3 linked regions of the Homo sapiens genome follow. The protein of the gene in region 1 interacts with the protein of each later gene in a pairwise test. Each region holds a gene or a part of one and is shown in the gene's direction. Other genes may lie near its edges.

Region 1 (3,745 bases):
CACTTGAAGCCATTGCTTTACCAAAAAGAAAAAAAAATCAGTTAAATTCAGGTGTTTTAATCCGTTTCTTCTTTGGGGGTTTTGTGTGATTTAAACGCTTGCTTTTAAGAACCTTTATGTTTTCAACCACTCATCCATAGTAGAAAAGTTCTGCAACCCTAGACTGCTGGCTTGAAGGAAAACCTTTGCAGGATTTGATATGGATTTCAACAAAGAACCAGCCTCTGCGAGGCTGGAGAGAGCTGCGGAGCTGCCATGCCTGAAGTGCAGATGGCTGAACCACAAGTCTTTAGGTTTCCGGAGTTGTTATTGTGGTGACCTAGAGTGTCAGAGCCAGGAGAGCAAGAAAGAGGAGCCAAACTGAGCCCTGAGTTTTCGACCACCCGGGCTCCCACAGCCTGGAACAGACTTCACCTAGCACGCTCAGTGCCAGCCTTCGGCAGGACGCTATCAACGCCCGACTGGTTTCCTGCTCTCATCCTGGCGCCTGGGCCCAGTTGCCATAGTGTGGATCCCATGACTCCTCAGGGAACCCCTGGACTCAGGCACGCGAGAAGAAGACAGCGCTTTGTGGAGAGAATTGACCAGGGACAGTTATGCTCGAGCACACAGGACTTGGGCCTGTATGCGTCCAGCATGGGCCCCAGGATGTCCCTTCTAAGCGAGGGTCGAGGGGTGCTCGCCCAGACGGGATCCCCGGGTCTCTGCTTTGTTAGCAGCTTTGGTGGCTGGTTCAGGAGGTCAGAGAAATAAAACGACTTGTGAACACAATGGAAATGACAGGCGCTCTGGCCAGGCGCGGGGAAGGCAGCCGCCTCGGGAAGCCGACCTCAGCCCTTTCCTCTCTCTCCCTCCCTCCGTCTCCCCCAGAGCCCCGGAGCTCCGAGGTGCACTTGAAGTTCATCTCCACTGCCAGGAGAACGCAGCGCAAACTGTCAAAGGGCTCCCAATCCTTAGGGCGTCCTCCCTGTCTGCAATAGCTTTTTGTAGAAAGGAAATCATCAGAACGATTCTGACTTTCTCCTCCTTTCTTTATTAGAAAAAGAGAAACCGCCTCCTAATACGCCTCAGAGAGAACCAATCTCGCGCTTCCGGGTCACCCGCTACCGCGAAGATTCTCTGGGGGCGAGGGGGGGCATTGGTTTGAAGCCCCTTAAAACGAGGGCCCTGCAGGCGATGCCTTCTTTCCTACTCGGATTTGTAAAGCCGAGATTGCTTAGTTGGAAACCCTGTTCTCCCCTCCCAGGCGCACACAGATCCCCCTTACACGCAAGCAGCGGGCGCTTCCACGCCTCCGCGGGCCAAGGTCACCAAATGCCCTGATTCCATCCCCCACCCGCCATCAATCCTGCCGACTCTGGCCGCTCTGCCTCATTCTCTTCCAAGAAGTTTCCATTCGTTTTATTTTTTTTTCCCCAGCCCGAGGTCCTCAGTAGACTCCAGCGTGGATTTTAATTGCCTCAATCAGCAGTCATTCTCCCCAGCCGTCACTCAGAGCCTGGACGGTGGGTCCCGCGATCTAGCCCTTGGCTACGCAGGAACGGTGCGCCCCCGGGTACGGCGCGGTTCAGCAGGCAGGCGTCAGGTTCTACCAAGGCGCTGAAATGAGCCCATCAGCGGGTAGGAGCCCTTCCCCCGCCGTCCCCTCCCCAGGCTCGTGAACGGCGCCTGATGCCCGCCCGGGGCGCGAGCTCTCGAGGTCGCAGTGACCTCAGCACCTGCTTGGAGGAAAACGGCGCGGGAACCCCGCTTCCTTCCCCTCAGCTGGAGCCAGACCTCAAACAAAACCCCAATCGATGCACACAGAAAACTCCTCTGGGCCACGCTTCCCGCCTCGCCGAGGTCTCCCCAGTCTGCCCCTCGCTGACGCTGGCGCGCAGCGGCTGTGGCAGCACCCGGGACAGCGGCCGCCCGCACTTCCCGCCTCTGGCTCGCCCGAGGACGCGCTGGCACGCCTCCCACCCCCTCACTCTGACTCCAGCTGGCGTGCATGGTCTGCCTCGCATCCTCACGACTCAGCTCCCTCCCTCTCTCGTGTTTTTTTCCTCCGCCGCCCCCTCATTCATCCCCACTGGGCTCCCTTTCCCTCAAATGCTCTGGGGCTCTCCGCGCTTTCCTGAGTCCGGGCTCCGAGGACCCTTAGGTAGTCCCGGTCTCTTTTAAAGCTCCCCGGCTTCCAAAGGGTTGCCACGTCCCTAAACCCTGTCTCCAGCTCGCATACACACACGCACAGACACGCACGTTTTCTGTTCCTGCGTGACACCCGCCCTCGCCGCTCGGCCCCGCCGGTCCCCGCGCGGTGCCCTCCTCCCGCCACACGGGCACGCACGCGCGCGCAGGGCCAAGCCCGAGGCAGCTCGCCCGCAGCTCGCACTCGCAGGCGACCTGCTCCAGTCTCCAAAGCCGATGGCATCTCCGGGCTCTGGCTTTTGGTCTTTCGGGTCGGAAGATGGCTCTGGGGATTCCGAGAATCCCGGCACAGGTAGGAAGGAGAACGGGGGCCTGCGGCGGGCGAGTTTTGCGGTGGTCTGGGGTTTGCGGAACTACGGAGAAGACGAAGGAGGTTTTTCCACCTGCAACAGGAAACTTCTTCGGGCGCTTCTCCCTGCTTTTGGGCTAAGTCCTTGACGGCCCAAGAGCTCAAGACCTCTACAGCCTCTTGTACCCTGGGAAGACGCCCAAATAGTCTCAGGCCCGTTCCACAGAAGGTTGGAAGAGCCCCCCAAAGACCGCGGTGTCTCGGGGACATGGAATTCCGTGGTCCTGGGGCGCTGCTAAGATCCGGGTGTCTGGACCCTGGGGTGGGACGGAGTGACCGTGAAGATAGAAAAAAAAAATGGGAAAGGTGAGAGATTTCTTTATCTAGAAAGACAGTCTGCGAAAAAATGGATAGCTTCAGTGTTTAGGAAAACTCGTCCAAGGTAGGCAGGGAGAGGAATTTGCCTGAGCCGATTGGCACCTGGAAGGGCAGCGGTGTGGGCTTCTCCTCGGGAAACAGATAAAGGAAATGAGGGCTGGCCCGGGCCGCCAGCCTCCCGCTTGCCTTCTGCACCTGCCGGCCTCACCGAGTCCTGAGCGGCCCCCAGGAGGAAGGCGGCCCCTCCTAGGACCCCGGACTGATTGATTTTCACATAGAACGAAATTTCACACGTCCGTCTGTTGTTCTCTTTCTGCCTCGCTGTCTGCCTGCCTATTCTTCCTTGCAGCGCGAGCCTGGTGCCAAGTGGCTCAGAAGTTCACGGGCGGCATCGGAAACAAACTGTGCGGTGAGTGCCCAGGGACCGGGGCGGCCAAGGTCGGCCCGCGGGGTCCAAGCAGTCTTCTCACCTCCGCATCCCAGTCAGCGGAGTCGGGGTTTCCTGGCTGCGGGTAGGCGGGAGCGAGGGAGCCGGGCCCGGCGGAGGATTGACGAGGCCCGCGTTCGGTGTCCTTACCCAGCCCTGCTCTACGGAGACGCCGAGAAGCCGGCGGAGAGCGGCGGGAGCCAACCCCCGCGGGCCGCCGCCCGGAAGGCCGCCTGCGCCTGCGACCAGAAGCCCTGCAGCTGCTCCAAAGTGGATGTCAACTACGCGTTTCTCCATGCAACAGGTAAAGACTCAGCGGGGAGCCCCGGGGCGCCCCTGCCCCTCTCTCTGCCCCGCCCACCGCGGCCGGTGCGGGTCCGGCGCTGAGAGCCGGACAGGGGCGTCGAGGTGGCAGCGGAGGCGGGACCTGCCAGAATCTTCAGATAAAAGCGAGAAATGCG
Region 2 (3,745 bases), on another chromosome or scaffold:
CTTTATACTAAAACTGATCTCCAGTGTCACTTAACCTGTTAAGGGCCAGTAATCTCCCAGTAACCTGGCTGTGACTGCCTTCTTTAACCTCCACTCTTGGTGCTCCTGTTATGCCTGCTTGTCACCACAGCCTAGCCCTAGAGATTCTATCTTTCCAATGCCTTCCCTTCTATCCTCTCCTAACCATCTATTATTCTGTCTATTACTCCTAAATCAGTTCCTGATTTCTGATTATCTGGATGATGAGCAGCATGCTTCTAACAAATCTTTCTCTCTCCAGCCTCTTTCCCACTCCAACTGAAAACCATGGGTTTTCCATCATCCTTTTCTCCAAAACTCTTATTTCCAAGTCAATTAAGCACTAACTCCCCAATCTGATATTCAATTACTTCCGCAGTTTTAACACAATTCCACATGTAACGGCATCGGTCAGCATTATGTCCCACTGCTATTCCAAGCATACCCTGTGCTCCAGCCACAGCAGTCTGCTTATTTTGCACGAAACACATGGCGTGCTTTTGCACCTCCAGGCTTTGGTTCACCCCCTTTTTTTTTAATCCACCTGGATTATGTTTCCCCTCCGTCTCTACTATTCTAAATCCCATCCTCCCCTAATTTCACTTGCCACGCTATCTTCACTAACCTTCTACCAAACGTATTATAATTATTTGTGCGGTTATCATATTTCCACACTGGATTCTTAATTCTGCTAAAACGAAATACTGTAATGCCTTTGATGAGCCTTCCATGTGCCAGCCATGTGCTAAGTGAGCTACATGCATTATCTCATTTAATCCTCAAATCGCCATCTAGGTCAGGACTCTCCCATTTAACATTAAACAAACTGAGGCTCCGAGAGATTAAGTAGCTTGCAGCTTTCACGCAGCTAATTATGGTGGAATCAGATTCCCTCCCCGAGGTTCAACTTGTATTAGTTAGGGTAGCCAGCATAATATATTCGCCAGCTACGCTGCACTCAACCTGTGTGTGCCGGATCAGCATGTTAAAAACGGTGTCTGCAAGTAGACCAAGGGAAGAGGGGCTGCGGGGGCGGGAATTGAGACAGCAATGAATTAGGATGGCGGGATTGGCGGTGATGTTTCCAAATTTCCACTGTTGGGTTGTAGAGCTTCTGAAATAAGCATTTAAAATGTATAGTTACTAAACAAGATTGCATCTACCCTTGGTCTAATTGTTATGTGTAGGTTAGTTTTGTCTCCCTGATTTTATTGTCATCCCCCAGGGATTGTTTCTGTTCTCCCGCGTTCCCAGAGCTTTCGGCGCATTGCTCAACACACGGTGTGCGTACTTGTTGATTTTAATGTATGTGTGTTTGCATATGTGCACAGCAGCTGGGCGGAGGACGTGGGTGTGGGATGCACTGTGCATTCCTTCTCCTCACTCTTGTTCCTTTGAGCAGCTGCAGCCTGGATGCTTTCCCTTAGGGGTAGGGGAGAGGCAGAACCGCTGACCCTTTAACAAGTTATCCCTCACAGAACAGGTGTCTCCCCCGACTCTCGGTGGAGAGGGATGGCTGGATACTTAGTGACATCAGCCACGAGCCAATGGGAAGTCGGGCTCCAGCCGTCGCGCCAATGAGCGGCCGGGGGCGGGCCGGGTTTCCTGGGCGCCTGGCTGGCCGGGCTGGTCCTGCGGCCGCGGGTGAGTCTCGTCCGCTCGCGCTGCCCACCGCGGCTCCAGCAGCTCCAGGCGCGGTTCCCCGGCCCGCGCCGCTCCCGGCCCCCCGGCTCGGGCGCCTCCCGCCGCAGCGCAGGCTCCCCCGCCGGCCGGGCTCCTGCGCGGCGCGGCTCGGCTCATGCCCCCGGGCGCGGGGCACACAGGCCGGCCGGCAGCCGCTGGGAAATAGGCCCCCGGGGGCGGTGGCGGCGGCGGGGCCATGGCGCGGAGACCCCGGGCGCCGGCCGCCTCCGGGGAGGAGTTCTCCTTCGTCAGCCCGCTGGTGAAATACCTGCTCTTCTTCTTCAACATGCTCTTCTGGGTGAGTCTCGGGGTCGAGGGCACCTGGGCGGCGGGGTCCCCCCGCGGGGTGGAAGGGTGGCCCGGGGTGCCCCACGCGCGGGAGCCGCACTGCCGAGTTTTCTGGGCTGACGGCACTTTGGGGGAATTTATCCTGGGGAGGGACACCCCGGGGACGCCGCGTCTGCAGGGGGCGTTGTAGGGAGGAGGGTATGCCAGGGAATCAGTAAAGACTGATGGGTATTCTCGGGGCGTCGGAGGAGGGTCTGTGTTAGGCTAGAAATGTGGGTTTGAGGGAGCCTGTTGGCCCAAGGCGGACCCACTGACACATTCATGATGGGGGTCGGGGGTGGCGGCTGACTTTCAGGCCTGGGGGCCTGGAGGCCCGGCTGGCAAAGAAAGAAGAGGAAGGAAAAACCCAAACCTCTCTCTCCACCACCTCAGAGAGGATGGGTTACTGGCATCATCTCTTCCTTTTGCAGGCCTCATCTACCCCCACCTCCACCCCCCCAAAGTCTAGGAAGAATGGCCTCCAGGTGCAGATGTCTTTCCCATCCCAGCACTGCCCCAAACTTTGTCCCCTCCCTGCCACCCTTCTCAGGACCAGACTTCACCCCTGGAGCCTGGCAATCACCAGTGTCTTTAAACAGGACCCCGTGTTGGGCCGGAGGGCCAGGGGTCCTTTCAGAATCTTCTGCTTGGGGTGGAAAAAGTATTGGGCTGGGACTCCGGACACCTGGATTCCCATCCCACTCTGCCGTTCATTGTTGACTTGACCGACCTAAGCATGTATGTTCATGTCTGCAGGCCTTGACTCCCTCCCCCACAAATCCAACCCAGTGTGATCAGGGGTGGCAGAAAGACTGCTGAAGCTGAGAATTGAGCTGAACCAGATCATGCAATGCCAGCTCGACCCTGTTTCCTGGCTAGAGAGTCCTGGAGGTCCTGGGGTGTGAGAACATAGGGACATCCTTCCCCCATTCACCTCCTCTTCTGGCTCCTACCACACCAGAGCTGCTGCTTCTGGAGCCCACCATCCTTGCCCACTTCAGCTGGAGACCTAAAGTTCAGACTTGCAGGAGGGAAGAATTGAGTCTAAAATATGTTTCCTAGGGGAGGGAGCAGAACAGACATCTAAGCCATTTGCTGGAAAGGTTTCACAGGGCCCGTGGGGTGAGGTGCAGACACAAAGCCCATAAGTGCTGGCCTGTTGGGACAAATGAGAGAAATCCCATAGGGTGGTGATGACAGCGCACTCAGCCATCCTACTCCTGGGGAAAATGAAACTTGTGCTCCTATCAAATGCTCAGTTGTAAAACTGGAAAAAAATTTTAGAAGACATCTTGTCCAGCATCTGTGTTTATGTCTATAAAATGTAGAAAACTAAAGCACAGAGATGTTAAATGTTTTGTCCAAGGTCCAACAGCTGGTTAGCAGGCTTGGTCTGGTGACCTTTCTACTGAACCACAGTGCCGCTGGGGGAAGTCCTCAGCACAGATGGCTGCTGCTATAGCTGGGGTATGGGCAGTATTAGTAGTTAACCAGTCAACCCAAGTTCCCATAGTCTAGGTTCTGCTTCAGCTGGAGGTTAGGGAAAAACACAAGAAAATCCCTTACCACTCTACCAGTGCTGGGGGATGTACTAAGAGACTCCCCACTTAGGGGCAAGTATCAGTGAAGTCTCTGTGCTCACTGAGTGTGCCAGGCCAGTGACGTGACATCCTCGGAGCCAGCACTAGCATTTCAGGGACTTTAGGTCGTCACTCTG
Region 3 (3,745 bases), on another chromosome or scaffold:
TTCCCTACGATGAAATTCTCTTGCTATCCTAATTTTTTGCCGGCTCAAAGGACTAACCGTTTTCCCCAAACACGCGGCCCTGAGCCTCCGGTGCTTTGCGAAAGCCGTCCCCTCCGGCTGGAATGTTCTTTGTCTCTCTGGTAAATGTCTATTCATCATTCAAGACCACCCTTCGCCCCTCCCCTTAATTACTTCCTCCCCTGTGCGCCCTCAAATTCTTGTACTCATTCAAGCAGTATTTATTAGGGGCCAGCTTTGTGGCCGGCACCGTGGCGGGCTCTGGGGCTACAAAAGGTGAATAATACTTGGGCTCTGCCTCTGAGGGCCTTACACGTTAGGGAGGAGTGGGTCAACTGCCACAAACGTCGCTAGGAAATTAAAAGGAAAATTTTACAAAGTGGCAGTTCTTGTCTGTCTTCCCCTCCAGATGGCCCGTGTGTTGTTTTCGGGCCGGGGCTATTTCTCATTTATTTCGCACCCCCGGTTCTTAGTGCCCTGTAGGTGCTAAATCAGCATTTGTTTCATGAGTGCTTTTTCTGGGGGCAACCAGACCCCTGCAGAAGTGTACCTGTGTTGTGCCAGAGGTTCTGATGATAGGCTTATAGGCGGTAGTTTCCTCAGTGTCCGTGGGTCGCCCCCGGTCCCGGGTTGGATGCCCCGCGGTCCAGCACCGAACCTTTCGGGGTGCAGAGTTGCAGAGCCGCGGAGGGCCCGGGCCGTGCGCAGCCGAAGGGAGGCCTGCAGCGCCCCCTCTGGATGCAGCGGGCACCGGCCGGCCGCCCCGCTCACCCGCTCGCACCCCACGTTTGTTCACCAGTATTTCAGTTTACGGTCAGAAAATGAACACAGACACTTCGTGATACTCTACACTTTTCAAAGGCGTAAGGGATGCCTTTTAAAGGATTATGGATTAGAAAAATTCCTCCCTCTTTCTTGTGCCTCTGGGCCCTTGCATTGTGATTCTATCTTACGTAAATAAAGGGGGCTTTGCTCTCCTAATTGTGCCCACTGTTCTGTGCAGCGCGGACCGGCGCATGCAGCGAGCGGGGCTGCGAGGGCGCTGCTGTGGCCAGGCGTCTGGCATGCTGACCACGTCGCGCTGCTGTAAAGGAAACCTGCCCCGCGCAGCGGCGGTGGCTGGAGCGGGAGAAACCGGACTTTGTGCAACTTTGGCCATAGTGGCCATCCCATGAATCTGTTTACTAGCTTGGTGGTGGGTCCAACAGAGCTTGTTGCTCCCTAGCCGCTTGCTCGTGCCCTTGGTGGTTACCGGTAGTTAAGCTTAGGGCGCATAGGGCCCTCGTGGCTCGCCACCTCTCACGGTTCAGTACCCACGCTTCGAACGAGGGATGGGAGCAGGCGCCACGGCCGGCACCCCAGAGCCCTGCTGCCCCTTAGTTCGAGCGGCCATCCTCCTGTGGGGCTTGTGGGCAGCCTGTGGGGTTTGTGGGCGGCCTGTGGGGTTTGTGGGTGGTCTAAGGAAAGAGTTGGGGCACTCAGGGGTCTGCTGTTTTTGCCCGTGGCCTTAACTCATCAGGGGAGGGTTTCTGCAGCAGAATCTCGGGCTCAGGGTTGGCGGTTAACGAGGGAGCAGCGGGGTCTTGGGGAGGGGGCTCGACACCCCTGAAGGTGCCCCCTAAAGGAGCCACTGTTAGAGGGGCACCCCATCTTTGTGGCCATGGCGGTGGTAGAGCGGCTGGGAGGGGCTCTGCGGCGAGCAAGGGAGCAGGCGGTAGGGGTTCTGCGGCGATGGGCGGGCTAGGGGCGGGGCGCGGGTGGGCTCTAAAAGTCGGTGCCCACTCGCTCCGCGCTGCCGCGGCAACCAGCACACCCCGGCACCTCCTCTGCGGCAGCTGCGCCTCGCAAGCGCAGTGCCGCAGCGCACGCCGGAGTGGCTGTAGCTGCCCGGCGCGGCGCCGCCCTGCGCGGGCTGTGGGCTGCGGGCTGCGCCCCCGCTGCTGGCCAGCTCTGCACGGCTGCGGGCTCTGCGGCGCCCGGTGCTCTGCAACGCTGCGGCGGGCGGCATGGGATAACGCGGCCATGGTGCGCCGAGATCGCCTCCGCAGGTGAGTGTGCGGTGGGAACGAGGGGGTGTGGCTGGCGGCCCTGGGACTAGGGCGCAGGCGAGCGGAGGACTGTGTGCCCGTGTCCGAGCTGGGGCTGCCTCTGGGCGAAAACTCTACCGACAGGCGGCACGCATTCCGCGCCCGCTCTGCCTACTTGAGGAGGGGGTGTCACTCCTGCCCGCAATGGAATGTTCAGAACGCGGGACCTCCTTGGGTTAGGATTTCTAGACCCCGGGATCGTCGTGGTGAGATTTAGGATTTCTGGACCCCAGCGTCATCTTGATATGACTTAGGATCCATAATGACCCTGGTCTCACCCTGATGCGAATTGGGATTTTTAGATCCTGGCATCACCCTGGTGCGATTTAGGATTTTTATACTCAGTCATTGCTGCAGCATGATTTAGGATTTCTAACCCCCAGCATCGCCCTGGTTTGATTTAGGATATTTAGACTCCGGCTTCCCTCTGGTGCGATTCAGGATTCTTAGACTCCGCCGTTGCCGTGGCGCGATTTAGGATTTATAGATCCCGGCAAAGCCCTGGTGCGATGTAGGATTTTTAGAACCCCAGCATCGCTCTGGTGCGACTTAAAGGATAGGCCCCAGCATCGCCCTGGTGCGATGTAGGATTTTTAGAACCCCGGTGTCTCCGTGGCGCACCTTAGGATTTCAAGAACGGGATAATCGCAGTGCCGAGATCGCCGCGGTGCAGCTTAGGATTTCAAGACCCAGGTATCACGGTGGCGGGAGTCACCGCAGTGACTAGAACTCGCAGTGCCCGTCAGCCGCCTTAAGTATTTTTCAGATTTCAGTAACAAGCGCGAGTGAGAACGGCGATGTGACCAAACTGTCATGTTGCGCAGGGATTGTTCACCTTGGTTTCGCGGGTTTTCAAAGTGGTTCGTCTCGCGGCGACGCCATCAGGTGGGCGGCAGGTTGGGTGGTATTATTACGGGAGTGTGTTTTTCTGTTTACAAGATGAAGAAATCAAGGCTCAGAAATTTTTGGAAAGTTTGTTACTGGAGTTTGCTTATTGTCTCCGCTCATGGCTCATCAAATAGTTGGGATTTTGGCCAAAAAATGTTTGCTTAACCCATTTTGCCTACTGACGGCTAGGTTGCTTCACTTCTAAAAATCCTAAAAGTTCATGGGGGCATTTTTACTGAGGTAATAAGACAAAAAATGGCCCCCTGAGAGGTTGCCTCTTTGCTTTCTTGGAGTAAGAGGAGGAGGGTGTGGAGGGGGGTGTCCAGGAGTGGAGTATGTTGGTCGATAGCCTCGTTTTTTAACCCCCCACTTTCCCTGAGCAGCGGCGGGGAAGCCTCCCCATTTGCCGCTCTGGCCGCCCCTCCCGGGGCTCTCTGCTGAGTCACTGCAGAGATTCAGCTGCTGGAACCCCGGGGATGAATGCGATGAGAAGCACTGGGGGAAAGGAGTAATGAAATCTGCACATGAAAATGTATACATTGAAGTACAGGACAGATAGGGCTGGGCAAATGATCGTCAAAACCTAATGGTTTTTGTCATCTGACCTTTCAAGGAGATACTGGGATACAGCCTGCTATTGTTGGGTGAAAACTGTGATATAACCATCATGTTCTGGCACTTTTTTGAACCATTTCTAGTATTACCTTGAGAAGTAGGACCAAATGGTTCTATCCGTCTTATGGACAGGTACT

The links.
Region 2: the proteins of GAD2 (region 1) and TSPAN33 interact in binary tests that used the Homo sapiens proteins (3 or more experiments, as listed by UniProt).
Region 3: the proteins of GAD2 (region 1) and MEST interact in binary tests that used the Homo sapiens proteins (3 or more experiments, as listed by UniProt).

What each region holds. Positions count from the first base shown.
Region 1 is NC_000010.11:26,214,404-26,218,148, forward strand, and holds the start of GAD2 (glutamate decarboxylase 2), read left to right. Parts: upstream 1-2,370; 5' UTR 2,371-2,406; coding exon 2,407-2,482; intron 2,483-3,206; coding exon 3,207-3,266; intron 3,267-3,438; coding exon 3,439-3,588; intron 3,589-3,745. UniProt on the Homo sapiens protein: Catalyzes the production of GABA.
Region 2 is NC_000007.14:129,143,084-129,146,828, forward strand, and holds the start of TSPAN33 (tetraspanin-33), read left to right. Parts: upstream 1-1,623; 5' UTR 1,624-1,897; coding exon 1,898-1,999; intron 2,000-3,745. UniProt on the Homo sapiens protein: Part of TspanC8 subgroup, composed of 6 members that interact with the transmembrane metalloprotease ADAM10.
Region 3 is NC_000007.14:130,490,274-130,494,018, forward strand, and holds the start of MEST (mesoderm-specific transcript homolog protein), read left to right. Parts: upstream 1-1,811; 5' UTR 1,812-2,040; coding exon 2,041-2,066; intron 2,067-2,928; exon of another isoform or gene 2,929-2,990; intron 2,991-3,745.